Regions from separate parts of the Homo sapiens genome. Here region 2 is linked to region 1. The links come from fine-mapping of genetic effects on gene expression. A gene starts in region 1. The other region holds a variant in brackets. All regions are shown on one strand. Distances are from middle to middle.

Region 1 (10,096 bases):
TGCTTCAAAATTTAGTAACTCAAAGTTGTTAACCATCAACTGGTTAACTGAAAAAGAGTTATGCTAAAGAAAATGGAAAAATAAAATTGGGTGAAAATTTTCATAGCAGAAATTATGTTTCATAAGTTTAAGGGACAACAGCAGTTATGTTCCAAAAATCAGGTTGAGAAAAATGAATGATATTTTAGTATTTTCTTTGCCTGACAGAAGTCAAAACAATCTGATCAAGCATATTTATTTTCCAGTAACACAAAAACAAAACAAAACAAAACTCAATGTTGATAGAAACAACTTTCAAAACAGGACAGACTGTAGAACTAGAAAAAGTCGAGGTGTTTCTATAATCTATACTACACTGACATAAAATTCAAAGGTGTTAAAAGTAATTATCAGACTATTTTACCATTATTAGTAATAACAAAAAAGGCAAATTGTAAAAATATTTTTATTTTATTTTACGTTTAAGCTCTGTTAGATTTGATGTAAACATAAAAATATTTTTTAAGGGCCAGGCACAGTGGCTCGTGCCTGTAATCCCAGCACTTTGGGAGGCCGAGGCGGGCGGATCATGAGGTCAGGAGATCGAGACCATCCTGGCTAACATGGCAAAACTCCGTCTCTACTAAAAATACAAAAAAAAAAAAAAAATTAGCTGGGCATGGTGGCGGGCGCCTGTAGTCCCAGCTACTCTGGAGGCTGAGGCAGGAGAATAGCATGAACCCAGGAGGCAGAGCTTGCAGTGAGCCGAGATCACACCACCGCACTCCAGCCTGGGCGACAAAGCGAGACTCCATCTCAAAAAAAACAAAAAAACTCTCTCTATATATATATATGTATGTAAATAAAACATTCAAAAACTGAAACTATAGTAAAAATCTAATCCAATGACATAATTGGGTAATTCAACTAGATTTGCAAGTATCAGATAATGACAGTATATTATGACATTAGAAAACAATATTAAATTCTAGACCAAGATACAATCCAGAGCATACACTACTGTGGGAAGAGGGTAGAAACTGCCTCATAAGGGGAAGGAAAAAAAACACCATACTATATCCCGCTTTATACAAACTAAATATTAGTTGAAATCTTATCAATCATCAAAAGTTACTAGAATGAACCACAGCAGCTAAAAAAGTTTCATTTAGTCTCTATAAAGATCACAAATCTTTAATGTGGTTTCAAAGTAAAGACATATCACTTTAAAGGAAATTAAATCGTGGTAGTACCTAATTGAAACAGCAATAAAAAATTATAAACAGTGTTTGGTTCAATGAGGTACTTCAGGTCACACTTTTAAAAGAATCCAAAGACTAAGAACAACATTTGATAAATAAAAGATGGTGCATCAAGGAAGGAAAATATGAAATAATATATGGTGATTTTAAATTGGAAAATCTATATTTTTATCAATATAAAATGTAATAATTCTTTTGATATAATAGCAATTAATTTTTAGTGATTTTAAAAACAGAATTACTTCACAGTAATTATAAATTTAAGAACCAGTGGAGAGCATCACATAAACAATAATTTGCTGCAACACAAAATCAATTAAATATTAATTGTTCTCCAAGTAAGGAACTACACACCAATTCTACATACTGGTGTTAGCATTATAAGATAATCTTTGATTTAATTTTTCTTAGACTCATTCTCAGCTGAAATGTGAACATACGGAGGAGAAGCTGGTAAAATTTCCTATGTCTATTTGATTTACTGAGCACGAAAAAACTGAAAGCTAAGAGAAGTGGAGCTGAGAAAGATCTAGAAAATGTAGAGCTTTGAGAAAAACTTTTTTAACAATATATATCCAAGCATGATTCAATAATAAGTAAATGTATCACAATGTATAAGAAGTTTGAGAAAAACATAAAGTTTCATTATATATTGCTACATTAATATACAAATATAGAGTAATCCTCAACCAATAATTCAATTTTTAAAACATTTCTTAATAAACAAAATTGAATAGGTTCCAAAATTTCCTTATTTGCTAGTTATGTAGAACTTAGAAAACAGGCACAACCATCCCACCACACTGCCTCAAGTGGACTAACACTAATTTTTTATTTTTCCCTCCACTGTCACTGGAAATGAGTTAGTTCTGCCCCCAACATCTCTACTACCCCCAACATGCCTCCACTCCCAGCTCAGTCTCCTTCAAAAAATTCAATGGTAATGGTTTCCAGTTAGGACGACAGGCTATTTATTATCGTACTTATTATACTTAAAACATTGGTCATCTATCATCTCCTTTCTTTTTACTTTTTGAGGGTTCCAGGTATTAACTCTACAGTTTCTTTTTCTGGTCTGTCCTCTGTTGCCTGATTCGCACTACTCTCCTCCCTTGACCTATTGCTTTGCTGGTCTGAGAGCTTCTCTCCAATCCTAGACTCCCTAAGGCAAACTTTGAAGATTTCGCCGGGCGCGGTGGCTCACGCCTGTAATCCCAGCACTTTGGGAGGCCGAGGCGGGCGGATCACGAAGTCAGGAGATCGAGACCATGCTGGCTAACATGGTGAAACCCTGTCTCTACTAAAAATACAAAAACAAAATTAGCCGGGCGTGGTGGCAGGCGCCTGTAGTCCCAGCTACTCGGGAGGCTGAGGCGGGAGAATGGCGTGAACCCGGGAGGCGGAGCTTGCAGTGAGCCGAGATTGCGCCACTGCACTCCAGCCTGGGTGACAGAGTGAGACTCCGCCTCAAAAAAAAAAAAAAAAAAAAAAAAACTTTGAAGATTTCAAGGGTTGGACTTGCTATGAAAGACAATCAAGTGAAGACTAATGATCCACCTCCTCACCTCCCTCACCCTACGCCCATATTCTTTCCACAGAGACAAAATTGCTTTTACCAGTGACATCAAGAACTATTCAAGATTCACCTACATAGTAATTATCCCAGGAATTTCACTTGCAGCTACTACTGTACTGAGTCTCCCAATTTAGCGAAGAAATGAAATTAAGTAAAAATGTGGCCAAGCGCAGTGACTCACGCCTGTAATCCCAGCACTTTGGGAGGCCAAGGCAGGCGGATCACGAGGTCAAGAGATTGAGACCATCCTGGCCAACAGATCGAGACCATCCTGGCCAACATGGTGAAACCCCGTCTCTACTAAAAATACAAAAATTAGCTGGGTGTGGCGGTGCACGCCTGTAATCCCAGCTACTCGGGAAGCTGAGGCAGGAGAATCGCTTGAACCCGGGAGGTGGAGGTTGCAGTGAGCCGAGATCGCGCCACTGCACTCCAACCTGGCAACAGAGGGAGACTCCGTCTCAAAAAAAAAAAAAAAAAAGATGTACTCTACTTTTTCTCAGACTCCAAGAGTACCATACTTTGTCCTAAAGTAATACAGCATCTGAGTATGCGGTCTGGGTTACAGCAAGGTCCTGGACTGAACATTTAAAACAAGAATAATGACAACAATAATACACACACACATATTCTTAATAAAATGTTCTTTAATGTGATATATATATGTGTGTGTGTAAAACGTCTGGTGAAAAAAGAAAAAAGCAGAAACTGAAGATTTCTAACTGAAAAAATTCTTCTGATCATCCATGTAAAAACTTCCACAAGTAGTCAACAATAAAATGTTACTTAAATATTACTAATGAGACATTCATGAATTTGAATAAACAAAATGCTTCATGCTTGTAAAGAACACAATATATAACTTTAAAAATCCCATTTATCTAAAAATATACACACTATCTACAATACAGCAGAAAAACATTTCCTTTTTCATATATTAAAACTAAATGTTACCAACTAATGTGACAATTAGAATTTTCAATCCTATTTAAAACTTTGGGCCCGTAAAGGAAAATGAACACCACAACAGTTAAAATGTAGATTTTCGGGGCGGGAAACTTTTTCAAATTATGTATGAACAGGCTGAACATGACAAGTAAATGCTTCAAAGTATATGAGAAAAATTAGAAACCATAAGATAAAAATGTAAATACTAAAGTCTTTCCTATCATAGAGAATAGAAATCAAGGTCATACCAATAACTTACTAATTTACTCTTCTATGAAGGTTTTCCTCCATTTTTGTTTTCAAATTATTATTTGGTTTAAGTTGCCATCACACTTCCACCCACATCATCAAGTCTTTCTCAAACACGAGCATTATCAAAGACAGAGTGGCACTAGTGAAAGCCTATTTCGTTATTTTCCTATTTCTCCTCTCCATTTGCAGAGCAAATGAATATCTGAAGTCTTTATAATCTCTTTTCAATTAAAAAAGAAAATGGAAAAAGAAAAAGAAAATCCGGGACACAAAGTTTGAGTCTATTAATAAAGACACAACAAAAGAGGGTCTTAAATGGGAACTGCTCCCTTGCCCCGAGAAACTTAGAATAACACTGTACTCAGAAGGTTCACATTATAATTATGGCTGAGAAAGGAGAAGCATACAAAAGGGTCTCTTTTTGAATAATGACTCCAGAAGCTCAATTAATAAAATCTTGTCAATAAACACATATGCGTTCTAGTATCTTCACTTCAATCCATAATTAATTATCTTTTCCAGGTCTCATCTACTGGAAGCATAAGTGAAAGCATAACACTTTAATCCGGATGAGTAGCGGCATAATATTAGGGAAATTTCAAACAATTAGGCAATTAAAACTACATGAATGTACTAACTAGTAGGATAAATCCCTATACTCTGAATTTCTAAGATTAAAAAGGTGATACTAAAAATAAGGTATCTTCACATTTATACTTCATATTTTTAGAAAGAAAAATTAACTTTATTTGATGCATAGTTTGAGAGAATTTTTTAAAAAGAACTTTCTAAAACAAACTTTCAGATTGCTTCCGTAAATTTAATGCTAAAACAATTCCAAACTAAATTCCAAATACAACTGACAGAACTAAGCTGACTACATAGGAATTAGCAAAGCAACACTGCAGTACTATGCAGAAAAAACAATTTGTTAAAAAGACTGTGCACAGAAAACATCCCATGCTGGTAGCTACTCTAAAGTGAAGTAAAAAGAACTGCATCATACAAAAATACAAAAAAAAAAGAATAAAAGACTCTTTCTATATCAACAGCAGTTAATGCTTCAACTACTACTAACAGCTGGAGAAATAGCTCCACCTCTATATGAGATGGAGTTGGGAGAGATGAGGAGGTGAGGAAGACTATCATCCACTGAAAACCAACTCTCTAAGTAAATTTAAGTTAAACAATGTGTTTCCTCTATGTAAATGCCAATGCATATTATAAATACTGATGATATTACAATTTTAATAATTTGTAAAGATGTTAAGATACCATCCACTTGCTGGATTTTTAGTATGTTAAATTCATATTACAAATATGAAAATCACATAAGCTTGCAAATCTCAAAATATGCAATGTTCATTTAGAATGACCAGTAATCAGGAAGCCAGTAAGAGGCATACATTTGATAAAACTGAATCCTACCAGATGCACAGAGTGAAAGCCTTAGTTTCAGAGTGCAACTATTTTTAAAGCCGCAATTGTTACAAGCTTGCATCAACTTTGCTAGTCTCTAGTTGAAACTGTCATCTGTTATAATCTAAATAGTTCATTAAGAAAATAAAAATTATTTGAAAATCTATAGATTGTATTCACAAAACGCTCCAATATATTGTACTAAAGCCAGTAATTTCAAATGTTACAGAACTAGACCCCGCTAACTGGCACCATATACCCATAGACTGAACTGCATAAGTATTTATTCTCCAACGGTATCGCGGACTTCGAAAACTTGAGGTGTAAAGATGTTTTCCAAATTTTTAAAACTACTTTAAAAATCCAAAAATCTTAAGAGACTTCATACTCCCATAATTTTCAAAGTAGTTCGAATTACCTGAAAGCCCCATAGTATAACCAAATACCTTAAGACTACCCTTCACAAACAACATCTTACCAACATAATTCAAGTATTATCAACTCTAAATAATTTTCAAACCACATAAATTGCGTTAGCCTATTACAGAGAGATAATGCCGCCAAACAGACTCTCTTCTTTCTATTCCACTTTCCCCCGTTTCTGACAGTTGCCAAAACTACCTACCTAAGGCTTGTGAAGATAAAGTAGCACTCAATTCCCAGGACCTAAATCGTTATCACTGCTGAGGGAAAAAAAAAAAAACAAGACCAATCACAAGTAAGATGTTTTTCTCTAACAGATCTGGAATGAGTATAGAGGAAGATTCTAAATTTAAGCCCAAATTGCTGCACCCTTCCATCGCACACAAATACGAACACCATACAAGGGTTCCCGTGCTTACATCAAATGGTAACGAGGGGTACAGCCTATTGTCTGAGTCTACTTATCGCCCTTAGACAAATGCCAGAATCATAATCAGAGTGAGAAATTACGCCTGAGCACAGGGGGCTATTGCAGAGTTAAGGGTGGGATGCTCAAGGAAAGCTCAAAATCCCAGTGACTCAAGCAAAGACGGGGGGGGGTAACCCGGGCCTCCGCATTACGGGTCCGCTCAATGCCTTCCCCAGATACCCACACCAATTCACAGAACGCTTACTTCCTCCCCAAGCTCCCTTCGCAAGTGCAGTCCGGAGGCACCACCGCCGCCGCCGCTCCGAGGAGCGGGGGAGGCGACTCTGTCCCCGCGCCTGGACCCAGGAGGACGACGACGAGGAGAAAGCGATGCGCGCGCGGCTCCCGGGAACCGGCTCTTGGCTAGCGAGGAGCCCCCGGGATGGCTGAGAAGCAGAACCAACCCGCCCGCCGCCTCTCCAGGGTCAAGCGAAACTGGGTCGCAGGAAGAAAAATAACGAAGAGATTGTAGATTAAGAAAAGGCAACAAAAACACTACCAGGCCGCTAGGAGGACCGCCTCAAAATGCCGCCGGAAGTCAGAGGTTTGCCCTGTTCCTCTGTAGACCCAGGCAGCTTCCGGCCGTCAGATTAGTCGTCAGTGCGCAGACACCACCCTTCGTGGACACGCCCTCTAGGCGTAAGGTTCCATGCGAGCGGTAAGAGTGCGGCGGGACTTGGAAATCGAATCTGTGCTCTGTGAGAGATCCTAGGAAAGGAAACTGGGAGCCCGGGAGAACTAAAATTCCCAATTAAAAGTGAATTTAAGTGAGTTTTCTCTTTTTATTACATAATTCCTTACCATAAACAGCTGTTGTAAATGCGCAAAATGCGGCATTTGTTGACAGTACCTAGAGCCACTCATTCATTCGTTCAACAGTGTTTATTGAGCAGCTGAGCTGGAATGAGAGGCTATGTTTGTCGTTTTTGACACCCCTCCCCTTTCTGGGCCATCGCCTAATTACCGTGGAGCAAACGGAATGCATGGTTGTATTTCTAAAGGCACAAGCAGAAATTTATTGAAAATTTGGAGCAGAAATCTTTAATGTACTTCTGACCACCCTTCCTTTTGTTGAGTAGGATCCAATGATCAGCGTGAGATGATCATTGATTAAACTTGCTTGAGATGGCTAGTCAAACGTCGAAACTTGCTTGAGATGGCTAGTCAAACGTCGAAAATCAAAGAAAAAGTAGGTAACTAGACTTTTACAATTTTTTTTAAAGGGTAAAAAGACATGAACCCTAGTCTGCCTTAATGGCAAAGTAGCACTTATTAGGTTCTCTGACAGAACCAAGGAATAGGAAAATCTTTTATCAAAACTACGGATAAAACTTAAAAATAATTTGATACAATGATTTGGTCTTGCTGGAATCAGTAAATTAAAATACGGAAGCAGAATGATAAAATCAGGGGCATTAAACATTCCTAATGACATGCCAAGCTATTTTAGAGACAGCGGCAAAAGCTTCTCTACAGGTGGGTTTGATGTAACGCTCCGGCAGCAAGAATCCGTATGTGCCCGTATCTCGAAGTTCAATTGTAAACGAATATTTGATGCCCAAATCATAGATCCAATCGTCCCCACCTCCAGGAGCTAGGTCTAAAAGAAGAAGAAAGAAATTGTTGAAATACAGACGTTTCAAATTAATTTACAAACTGGGAATTGTTTGATTTAAATGTTTATTTGTTTGTATACCTTTAGATTTTTTTCAGTTTTTAACTAATATAAACAACTTTACAATGAGTACCCTTGTTTATACATAATTGCTTCTTTGTCTCTTTAGAATATTCTTCCCTAGAATAGATTTGCTAGTCTAAGGCTCTGTACTTTTTGCAATTACGGCATGTTCCCAAATGGACGTCAAAAGAACTGAATTCATTTATACTTCCACAAGCAGGGTATGAATTTGCCCATTTCCCCTTCCCATACCATCAATAGGAATTATGAATTCTGATAATTTTATGGGCGAAAAATAATATCCAACTGTCTTAATTTATGTTTTTTGATTATCAGTGAGTTGCACATTTGTTTGGCATATTTATTGGCTATCTTTATATTTCCTATCAATTGTCCTTCCTCATTTGTCTACTTGGTTCATTTTATCAATTGCTTATAAAAACGACATTAGTGTTATTAGCTTTGTTTGGCATGTAGACCTTTTTTTCTCCTTTCATTCATTTCTCCTTTCACAAGAATTTTTTCTCCTTACTGAGATTTCAACTTGGTTTATGCAGGGTTTTCATATGAAAATATATGCTGTACCTGGAATTTACTTTGGTGAAAGACATGTTAATAATCCAATTAATTTTTTTCTAGGTAACTTGTTAGGTTTTCCAACCGCATTAATTGAATAATCTGACTTTTTTTGGGGGGGTGCTAAATTGAGTCCAGGTTTATGGCAAAGTCTGACCCAAAATTTTAATTTATAATTTTAGCATCTATCTAATACAGTTTGGGAAGCATCTCATGAAAGCTACAATTGCCAGAAGACTTGTTACAGTTTAATGCATGTTAACTAAAATGTGTACATATTTTAGTGTTCATGATAAATACAGTTTCGACCTTTTTTGAGATGGAGTCTCACTCTGTCACCCAGGCTAGAGTGCAGTTGCACAATCTCAGCTCATTGCCACCCCCACCTCCCAGGTTCAAGTAATTCTTATGCATTAGCCAACCAAGTAGCTGGCATTACAGGCGCCTGCCACCATGCCCAGCTAATTTTTGTATTTTTAGTAGAGACAGGGTTTCACCATGTTGGCCAGTCTGGTCTCGAACTCCTGACCTCAAGTGATCCTCCTGCCTCAGCCTCCCAAAGTGCTGGTATTACAGGCATGAGCCACAGCACCTGGCCTCTTTTTGTTTTTTTCTAATCATTAAAAAAAAAAAAAAAAGGAAAAACCTGGATTTGGCCTTCAGGCTGTAGTTTTCTGATGCCTGGTTACAGGTTTATTTTATGCTCCTCTTTTCCCATCTCCCTTCAAACTTCAAAAGGGCAAAATCAGTCTGTCCTCCCACTGTGTGTAGATAGGAGTTACTCACTAAATATCTTTCAGCAAAAATTAATCAAAACTTTTTGTTAAGAGTTTGTCACAAGTTTTGTGTGTGTAATATATATTAAAGACAATCAACTGTAATGTGTTATGAGCTATACTCTTGGGAACAGGCTAACACTAAAAAACACTTGATGCAAATGGCATGCCCTAGATTAGTGTAGTGTACAACCTGCACAACCTTCCATGGTGGCCCTGGGAATCATGCAAAAGTTTTATGAACTTTTCTGCTTCACTCAACTAGTATGATGCCAATTCTGTAATTCCTACTTGATTGTGATAAATATGATTTCTTAAATAGGATTTTGGCTTCTTTTTAGTAACTCATTTATTAATATAGCTTTGTTCAGCATTGTCATAGCTATTATGCTTCTGTTCCTAATTATTACAATTCAGTTGTATTACATGTGACCCTATTTAATTCAGAAAAATTAAATACACAAAGAAAAACAGATCACACAGATTTCTTTAGTAGCTCAAAGTTCTCTAAGATCATAAGAAGAAATACTTACATAAGGTTTCTGAGCCATGGCCATGTGTATACCTGGTATTTTTACTAATTTTCTCAATAGCACGAACTGCTTCACTGGCTACTAGAGACTGGAAGCAACAAGATATAGAATTTCAGTTAATGTGCAGCTTTGAAACATGACAAGTAGAAGTTTCTAAAAAATAATCATACATTAATTGAATCAAAGTATACAGGTAGAAAATCTA
Region 2 (8,000 bases), 50 kb after region 1:
CAAATGACTCAGCCAGTTGATGTCAGTCAGCCTGTGTCAACAGCCACCCCAATGCTGGCACAAAAGGCACTAGAACAGAATAGCCTGATGGCAGAGATGAAGTGTGCATGGCTCCAGCAGCACGGACTCCTCTCATTAAGGCTGATCTAGCTACTGTTGCTGCCCCATGTCTAACTTGCCAGCAACGGAGACCAAAGTTGAGCCCCGGAATCAGCACCATTCCTCATAGAGACCAGCTAGTCACTGGGTGGTAAGTTGACTACATCTGTCCTCTTCCACTCTGGGTATGGGTTTATCTCGCCTGCCTGTAGGGCCTCAGGCAAGCATCACCATACAAGGGCTTACGGAGTGTTTGACCACTGATAAAACATCTCACATAACATCCTATCAGATCATGGGCTCCACTTTACAACAAGGGAATTGCAGAAATGGGTCCATTACCATGGAATCCACTTAGCCTCTCACATACCAGAATACCTAGTTGCTGCTATCCTGTTACTGAAATAAAAATGGTTTGTTGAAGGATCAATTGAGGTGCTAACTTGGAAGGCAACATCCTCCAGTGCACACTTTAAATCAATACTCATGTGGTGCTGTGTCCCTACTAGGTAGTATACATGGTTCCAGGAACCAAGTTGGAGTGTTTCCATATACCGTCACTCCAAGTAACCCACTCGGAGAATTAGTACTTTAAATCTACAAATATGGACTCTGTACTTATAAAAATTCCGGTTTCCAGAGAGCATAGGAAGAGTTCCTTTAAACTGAAAGCTGTTGTTACTGTCCAGTCATTTCAGTTTCCTCATGCTGATTGATTATCAGGAAGGCGAGGAGTTACCATGGGTTTTCTAGCCATGCAGGAAGGGTAATTGACTCCAATAATCAGAAGGACATTGAGGGCTGCACTTACATACTGAATGTGGCAGGGAAGAATATGTTTGGAATCCAGCTTAGGCGTTCTGTAATATTCCCTTGTCCAAATTTGATGTATACAGACAATTGCAGCAGCCATGGCCCAAGAGGGCCCAGTGATTATGACTCAGATCCTTGAGGATTGAGGGTCTGGGTTGTCTCACCAGGTAAACCACCTAGATTAGAAGAGGTGCTAGCAAAGGGCACCTCTTTGGGGAAAACAGAACGGGTAGGGGAGAAGAGGAATGACAAGTATTGGTTATGGCCTCGAGACTAGCTGTAGCTGTGAAGGTTGTAGTTTATTTCACTAACGTTCCTCTTGTATATTTCCTTTAGGAAGAGGGACCAAGCAAAACCCCAGAAGAGTTGATCTCAAAGCTTATTTTATGAAGAAAATTGACCTGAGTGACACAAAGGGTTGGACTGTAGTAGATGTCACGTTTTGCTGCCTAGATCTCCATCCAGGGATGAACTCTTATTTCCTCAGCTTCTTTGTCTCCTCAGCTTCTGGGAGGGTTGGCAGCTGATATTCTCACCTGAGTCCCTTTCTAGGACTTGCCCTTGCCTGAAGAGAGCTGTGCTGCCCAACATGATGCCTCCTCCAAGGTACAATCCACACCCAGTGACTAATAAACAGGGGTTACAAAGGCATGCCTGCTTGCCCCAGTTTGGGACAACTTTACCAGGCCAACCCAGCCTCAAGGCTCTCCACAGGAACAGGTGAGGCCATAGTTGTGATTACATCACAGGTCAGTTTCTCCTCTGCCCAAGCCTTCTTCCTTCATTCCTCCACAGATGCTGATCCTGAGATTCCTTTCCAGTAAACTTCCTCCATGCAATCTTCATCTCAGGAGTCTGTTTCCTGGGGAAACTAACCTGCAACTGATACAAATGCCTATTCTGTGAGATAAAACACTAAAAGTACAATGCGAGTGGTATAAATATTCTGCTACAGGAATACAAAGTCAGGTATCATTTTTGACTTAGGTAGTCAGAGAATGGAGATATTCTGAGTTGGACTTCTGAGATACTAGGATTCAATAGGTGAAGGGAAGATGAGATGGTATAAGACTAACATAGGCAGAATTTTGCTAAACGAATTGGAGATGAAACATCATAAGTGCAGGTGCACAAGTAGAAAAGTAAAATCAGAGCTCAAGGAAGGAGAAGTGATCCAGCTGGGCAGAAATATGGGGCCTATATAGAGATATACCAGGAAATAAAGCCAGGACGAATGGCAGGGTAGGACCTGATTGTTAAGGGTCTTAAATGCTGGGGTCAAGATTGTGGCCCTTACTTAAAAGTTGGTTGGGCATGATTTTGGGAGTTGTAGCAAAAGATGTGGCAAACTCAAAGCTTCCTTTTCATGTAAAGTATAGAGAAGTGGAGGTTCATATCATTAAATCACTGTAATTTCAGTGTGAACTTCTAACAATTTGAGCTAACCATGAGATAGGACACCTTATCAAGCAATGAGCTCTTCATTATCTAAAGAGATGCTGAATTTCAAGTCCATGTAGAGGAAGTCTTGTGTTGACTAGAGCATAATATGTCTGGGGGGACTTTTCTTCTTTTTTACTGATATTTAGTAACTTGGATATTGTGCTAAGTGCTTTACAGGTATTCTTATTTAATCCTCACAAGGCAGTATGGTAGATAATCTATTATATTGAAAATAATGGGCCAGGCACAGTGGCTCACGCCTGTAATCCCAGCACTTTGGGAGGCTGAGGTGGGTGGATCACCTGAGGTCAGGAGTTCAAGACCAGCCTGACCAACATGGTGAAACCCTGTCTTTACTAAAAATACAAAAATAAGCGTGGCATAGTAGCTCACACCTGTAGTCCCAGCTACTCAGAAGGCTGAAGCACGAGAATCACTTGAACCCACGAGGTGGAGGTTACAGTGAGCCAAAATCACACCACTGGACTCCAGCCTGGGTAAGAGAGCATGACTAGGTCTCAAAAGAAAGAAAGAAAATAATGAACAAAAAATGTTGAGTGGGCAGTATTAAATTAAAAAAAAACCTAATGTATTAAAGAAGGAGAAAAGTATAAAAATTAGTCAACAAGCAGAGAAAGAAAGAAAATATAAAGGTAAAAATGTATGTTATCCAAATGAGACCTCTTAAGAAGAAAAAATAAAGGAAATTCAAAAAATAAGTTAGGAAATAGTGAGTAAAATTATGAAGTTAAAAATTCACCAAAAATTTATTGATATGTCCAAGTTCAGCTTGTAGTGAACAGACTCTTCTTATGCAGAATTTGAGCAAAGTGCTAACACAACAGAGTTAGGTAATGGGATGAGGGTCAGTCAGATCACTCTATTTTTGGAAACTGGTTTCATGACTGCTTCCCCTTACTTAGTCATAAACAGGCTATATAAAAAGCTGTCAGAGTGGAAAGAGGGAGAGGATTTGTGAATTTTTTTTTTTAGCATGTTTTTATGGTTCTGTAAGTCACCACCCTCCCAAAGGGATGAAGTTTCGGGGTGCACTCCCCTTACCTCAGCCTAGTAGGGGGACTTCCAGGAGATAATGAGAGAGTTGGATGTTTCCTCAAATTTACAGACACAAAGACTGGTGCCTGGCTTCTCCTGATAAAGCTAAACCTGCATGTGGCTGGTCTCTAGTTGGCTAGATAGTAGTAGTTAAAATGAAAAGAAACACTTAATGTTAGATGCCATCCAATAGGGCCACCTAAAGGGATGGAAGGTTCTCAACAACAAGAGCCCAGAGGTAGAAGCAAGACTCTTAGCGGGGAAGGATGGAGTCGCAAGTGAAAACCTAGACAAAGAAGCATCTGTCCTGGTCCAGAGGCTTCCCCAATAAAGATGTCTCACACAACTCTAAGAAGTTAGAACTCGAGAAAAAGACTAACAAGAAAAAGAGTAAGGTGTGTTTGTGGAAGAGGTGAGGCAGTTGTTTTCCTATAAATAATGTTAAATTAAACTAAATTTGGTCTGAGGATGCCTCGTAACTTGAGTCGCTACATAACAAACTGCAACCTAACTTAGGAGTATTTTTTTTTTGTACTAACGAGGTGAGTCTCAGCCAATCACAGCAGCCAAGCTACAGCCAATCCCATGTGGCCAACTGATCAGCCTATGCCCAGTAAGACAACTGCTCACCTGTAACTACTCAAGCTGCTTCTGGACCTCATTTCCATTTGCTGTTTATAAGTGCTGCCTGCCCACTTTGCTGAGCAGAACTCTCTGAACTTCTTTCGTTTTTGAGGGTTACTTGATTAGAAAATTGTTCTTTGTTCAATTAAATTTTGCTAAATATAATTCTTTTAAAGATTTTCTTTTAACAACAAAGATGGGGATATTTGAACAATACCTTGGTTGGAGGTGACATTCTAATTTCTAAATTGAGGCTATTTGTATTTTTAGCAGGACCCAAGGACTGTCACTTAAAAGCAGGCTAAAAAGCCTTGAAATTTTCTAACTTTCCATGCGAGAGCAGTGATAGATAACCCCACTACGCAAAATGTCATGGGGCAATGGGAGACAAAAA[C/A]TAAAGCTGTGTTTCAACTGCGTCTCTGAATGATACGATTATAGCACTTACACAATAACCACTTGAGAAAAAAGAACAGCCTTGCACCAAAAATCGAATGAGAAGTACAAGCACAGTGAAGTAACAGGTCACTTTACAAAAAAAAGTAAAGGCTGAAAGGGGACGAGCAAATTGCCCAAGTCTGCATGGGTGATAAGTAGCAGATCTGGGGCTCGAATCCAGATCCTGAGCTTTTAATACCTATGCAACACTTCCTCTGTTCCTTCCCTTCTGAGAACGTCATTATGTTCATTGGGGTGTATCCCCTGCTATGGTTTACAGGGGAGGGTTCACACTTTCACCATTCTGAAAGATTATTTTGAATTTAAAAAGCTGGCAAGATGTCTCTGAACAATGGAACATAGCCCAAGGCTGCAATTTTGTTGCACACATTACAGTGTTTTAAGGCCACTGGTGGCCTGTTCTTTGAGATGAAAACAATACATCAGTAGGAACAAAGTGAAAGAGAGTAAACTGGTCTCCAGGTACCCAAACAGTATGTGAAGTCAACAGAGGAACACTTCCTGTGGTCTATTAATAATTCAGAAGCCCTTTATCCTCAACCCTCCTCCACTCTCTAATTCCTAAGTCTTCTTCCTAGTGTCTCTTACTTCCTCTTTCCAAATAGTCTGGGCTGGCAGGCTGCATTTAGGTAATCACTGCACAATACAATTACTGATTCTGTTTACAAGATTCTTGCTAGTATTTTATTTTTACCCTTTATAGTGTTTGGCTTTTAAAAGCAAATGAATATGGAGTCATGATTTTTTGGCTGCCTTTCCCTTTGGCATATGATATTTATGCCTTTAAAACTTGTTGTTGTTCCAGGGCATTTCACTGATGAAATTTATCAAAATGAACCTACAAATCAGCCACTAAGAGACTGCATGAATAAAAACTGTTAGTAGGAAAATGATTATGACAAAAAAAAAAAAAAAAACAAAGAACAGCTTTAAGAAAAAGCCAGACTGTTAGTTTTTTTTTTTTTTTTTAGAAGGGTTGATATTCTGAACCCCAGCAACAATTTATCAAAGTCTGTTGCCCTGAATGAAATTAGATTTCCTTTTTAGCTTCAGGAATAGGCCATTCCTGGAAAAGTGGAGCACAGAAACATTTGGTAAAAAAATTTATTTTTACTCACAGAAAGAGTAGTTTGCAATGTTATTTCCAGTGAAGGGATGGGAACCAGGATTCAGATATTCATCTGTCTACAATACTGAGGTCCTCCTACCTCCTCTCCTCTGCAAAGGGACCCTCGCAGTATGCAAAAGTATTAAATATTTTTAATGTGATATTCTTTGGTTAAAATATAGTCACATTCTCATTCCTTTTTTCAAGCATAAGTATCAGTCAGATTTCAGAGTATAAGCTGAAGCAACAAATAGTAACAAAGCCCATGCATGAAGATATGTTCTCACTCATTTTTTTACTATTTTATTGTTGGCTACTTCTTCTATTTGCGTTATATTTAGTGTCACTAAGCTGCTATACACGTACTCATTTGAAGAGATGTGCTAAAGCTTTTAGTGTGTTTTGCTATTGATTATCCTATCCAAGAGTTTGGGTTACTCTACGATCAAGATGGCGGTCTGCAGTGAGCCCACCTGCCCGCCAACCTCTGCAACAACCAGCTGAGGATAATTGCACTGGGCTGACGCCAAGGCCATGATTAGATCTGCTAGTGGGTGAGAACCATGAGACTGAACCTCTAATCCCGAACCTCTCTTCCAAGCTACTTTCCAAACCAACTGCTGCCTGCAACTCCCTTTGACTAAATCTGACCTTCCTTCAAACTGGCTCTCTTCCTAATTTCCAGATTTTATGGAGGCAATGCTGTCCAGTGCATGGAGTTGAAATGAGGCTAAAGTGGGTTTGAATCCAAGCTCTACATTTACTGTTTGATCTTGGGCCAATTATTTATTCTTCCTGAGGCTCAGTTTCCTCCTTTGTAAAATGTCAGTAAAGATTCCTAGCATGTAGGATTTTATGCATTTAAAGAGATAACATTTCTAAGTGACTAGTTCAGTGCCTGGCACAAACACAGGCACTAAATAAGCAGAGGTTTCCTCCCTTTCCCCTAACTGTCAATGGTACTGCCACTGTGTACAGTAGCCAAGTTGGACATGTTGATACCAATTTTTCTCTTCTCCCCCTTTCCCTTAACTGAAGCCAATTATCAAGTTATGGAATATTAGAACTAGCAAGAACCTTAGAAATCCTGACCATATGATTCACCGATAAAATACAGAGAAAGACATAAGTCACTGATCATTGCAGCAATCTTGACCCCCACGTCAATTAAATAACAAAAATAATATCATTTTATGATAGAATTTGTTGCTCGACATTCGACAATCATGTTGAACAAAAGAAGATCAATCAACTATAATCAGTTCAGTGATCATGTACAAACACAGCTTCAGGCTCACAAGTCAAGATCTATTTTCCAAACCATTGTCCTATGGTTATTTATGACCGTGAACATTTTTTTGGTGGTAGAATGTTCCTTGTCACTGGTATATTCCTTTGCCCTATGTCTCTTCTTTCTTTGTCATTTACTAACATGAGGAGAGGGATCTGTCTCAAAGATAATTGGAGGAGAAAGCGATCATAGAACCAAAACAAAGGGGAAAAAATAAGATAATTCCAAAGGAAACAATATCAATGTTTTAAAGCCTAAAAATTGACTACTTAATAAATTACATTACATATACCCTGGAACTATTTTCTCCATGCATTGCATGTGCTATAGCATGAATTCATTTGTGTTCTTCTAGATAGTTTATCCTAAGGGAATCTACTAAGCAAAATAAGAATCAGATAATAGTTCTTTATCACACAACTCTTCTTCCTTTCATATTCCATGCTAAATAATCATGCATGATCCAAACCTCCTATTTAACACTTCACCCTCTTCTTCCTCCTATGTTCCATGTACAAGGGGAAAATAAATGATCCATAGTTAACTTTTTTTATGTGAAGACAGGAAGAATATGAATCATACATCAAGTTAGAGTATAAATAGTTACGTTTATAAAAGATTTAATTTCTTGAATCTCCATAGTCACTGGATATGCGTATCATCCAAGGTTCTCCCAATAATAAAACCAGAGCCAGGAAAGAAAAAAGACCCTGTCTTTAGTGATAGCCCATTGTGCTAAAGTCTACTTATTTGTCAGGGCAACTTGGAAAGTTCTGAAAGACCTGGCCTTCAAAGTTTACCATTTTGTCCACCAGCTCAGTGCACTGACTTGACACGACATGAGGCAAACAAGTGAGGAGAGTGGCCCACCACAGTCTAAGATTCTATTGGGTTACCTCTGAAACGCGAAGACATGCTGCTCACAGAAGAGAACAATGGGTACAAGGACTGCAAGGCTGCAAAGCTTCATCCCAACAGCAATTTTCTGTACAACAAATTTCTCTGAAGAGAAAAACCCAGATCATTGATTGCATAACAGCCTTCTTTACACACTGGTTAAAATATAACGGCATGTTCCCTCTTGTTCCTGTGGGTCAATCAACTTAGCTT

Direction of the effects. Alleles are on the strand shown, and positions count from the first base shown. SD is a standard deviation of normalised expression in the study named.
In carriers of allele C in region 2, the expression in unexposed skin of the gene that starts at base 6,978 in region 1 tends to be higher than with A alone (moderate effect, 0.50 SD a copy in GTEx).

Evidence for each region.
Region 2: its variant is fine-mapped to the expression of CPB2-AS1 in unexposed skin (GTEx, PIP 0.97).

Annotation. Positions count from the first base shown.
Region 1 is chr13:46,045,871-46,055,966 of GRCh38, forward strand. CPB2-AS1 (CPB2 antisense RNA 1) reads left to right here and starts at 6,978. Exons shown (of 3, transcript NR_046227.1): 1 at 6,978-7,095. It overlaps ZC3H13 (zinc finger CCCH-type containing 13), which reads right to left and starts at 6,876. Exons shown (of 19, transcript NM_001330564.2): 1 at 6,534-6,876. CPB2 (carboxypeptidase B2) reads right to left here. Exons shown (of 11, transcript NM_001872.5): 10 at 9,892-9,979; 11 at 7,316-7,928. The coding sequence ends at 7,744. RefSeq lists enhancers at 6,060-6,596, 6,597-7,132, 6,662-6,831, 6,842-7,041.
Region 2 is chr13:46,097,150-46,105,149 of GRCh38, forward strand. CPB2 (carboxypeptidase B2) reads right to left here and starts at 7,884. Exons shown (of 11, transcript NM_001872.5): 1 at 7,787-7,884. The coding sequence starts at 7,860. CPB2-AS1 (CPB2 antisense RNA 1) reads left to right here. Exons shown (of 3, transcript NR_046227.1): 3 at 1,249-4,198. The variant C/A (reference allele first, on the strand shown) is at 4,430.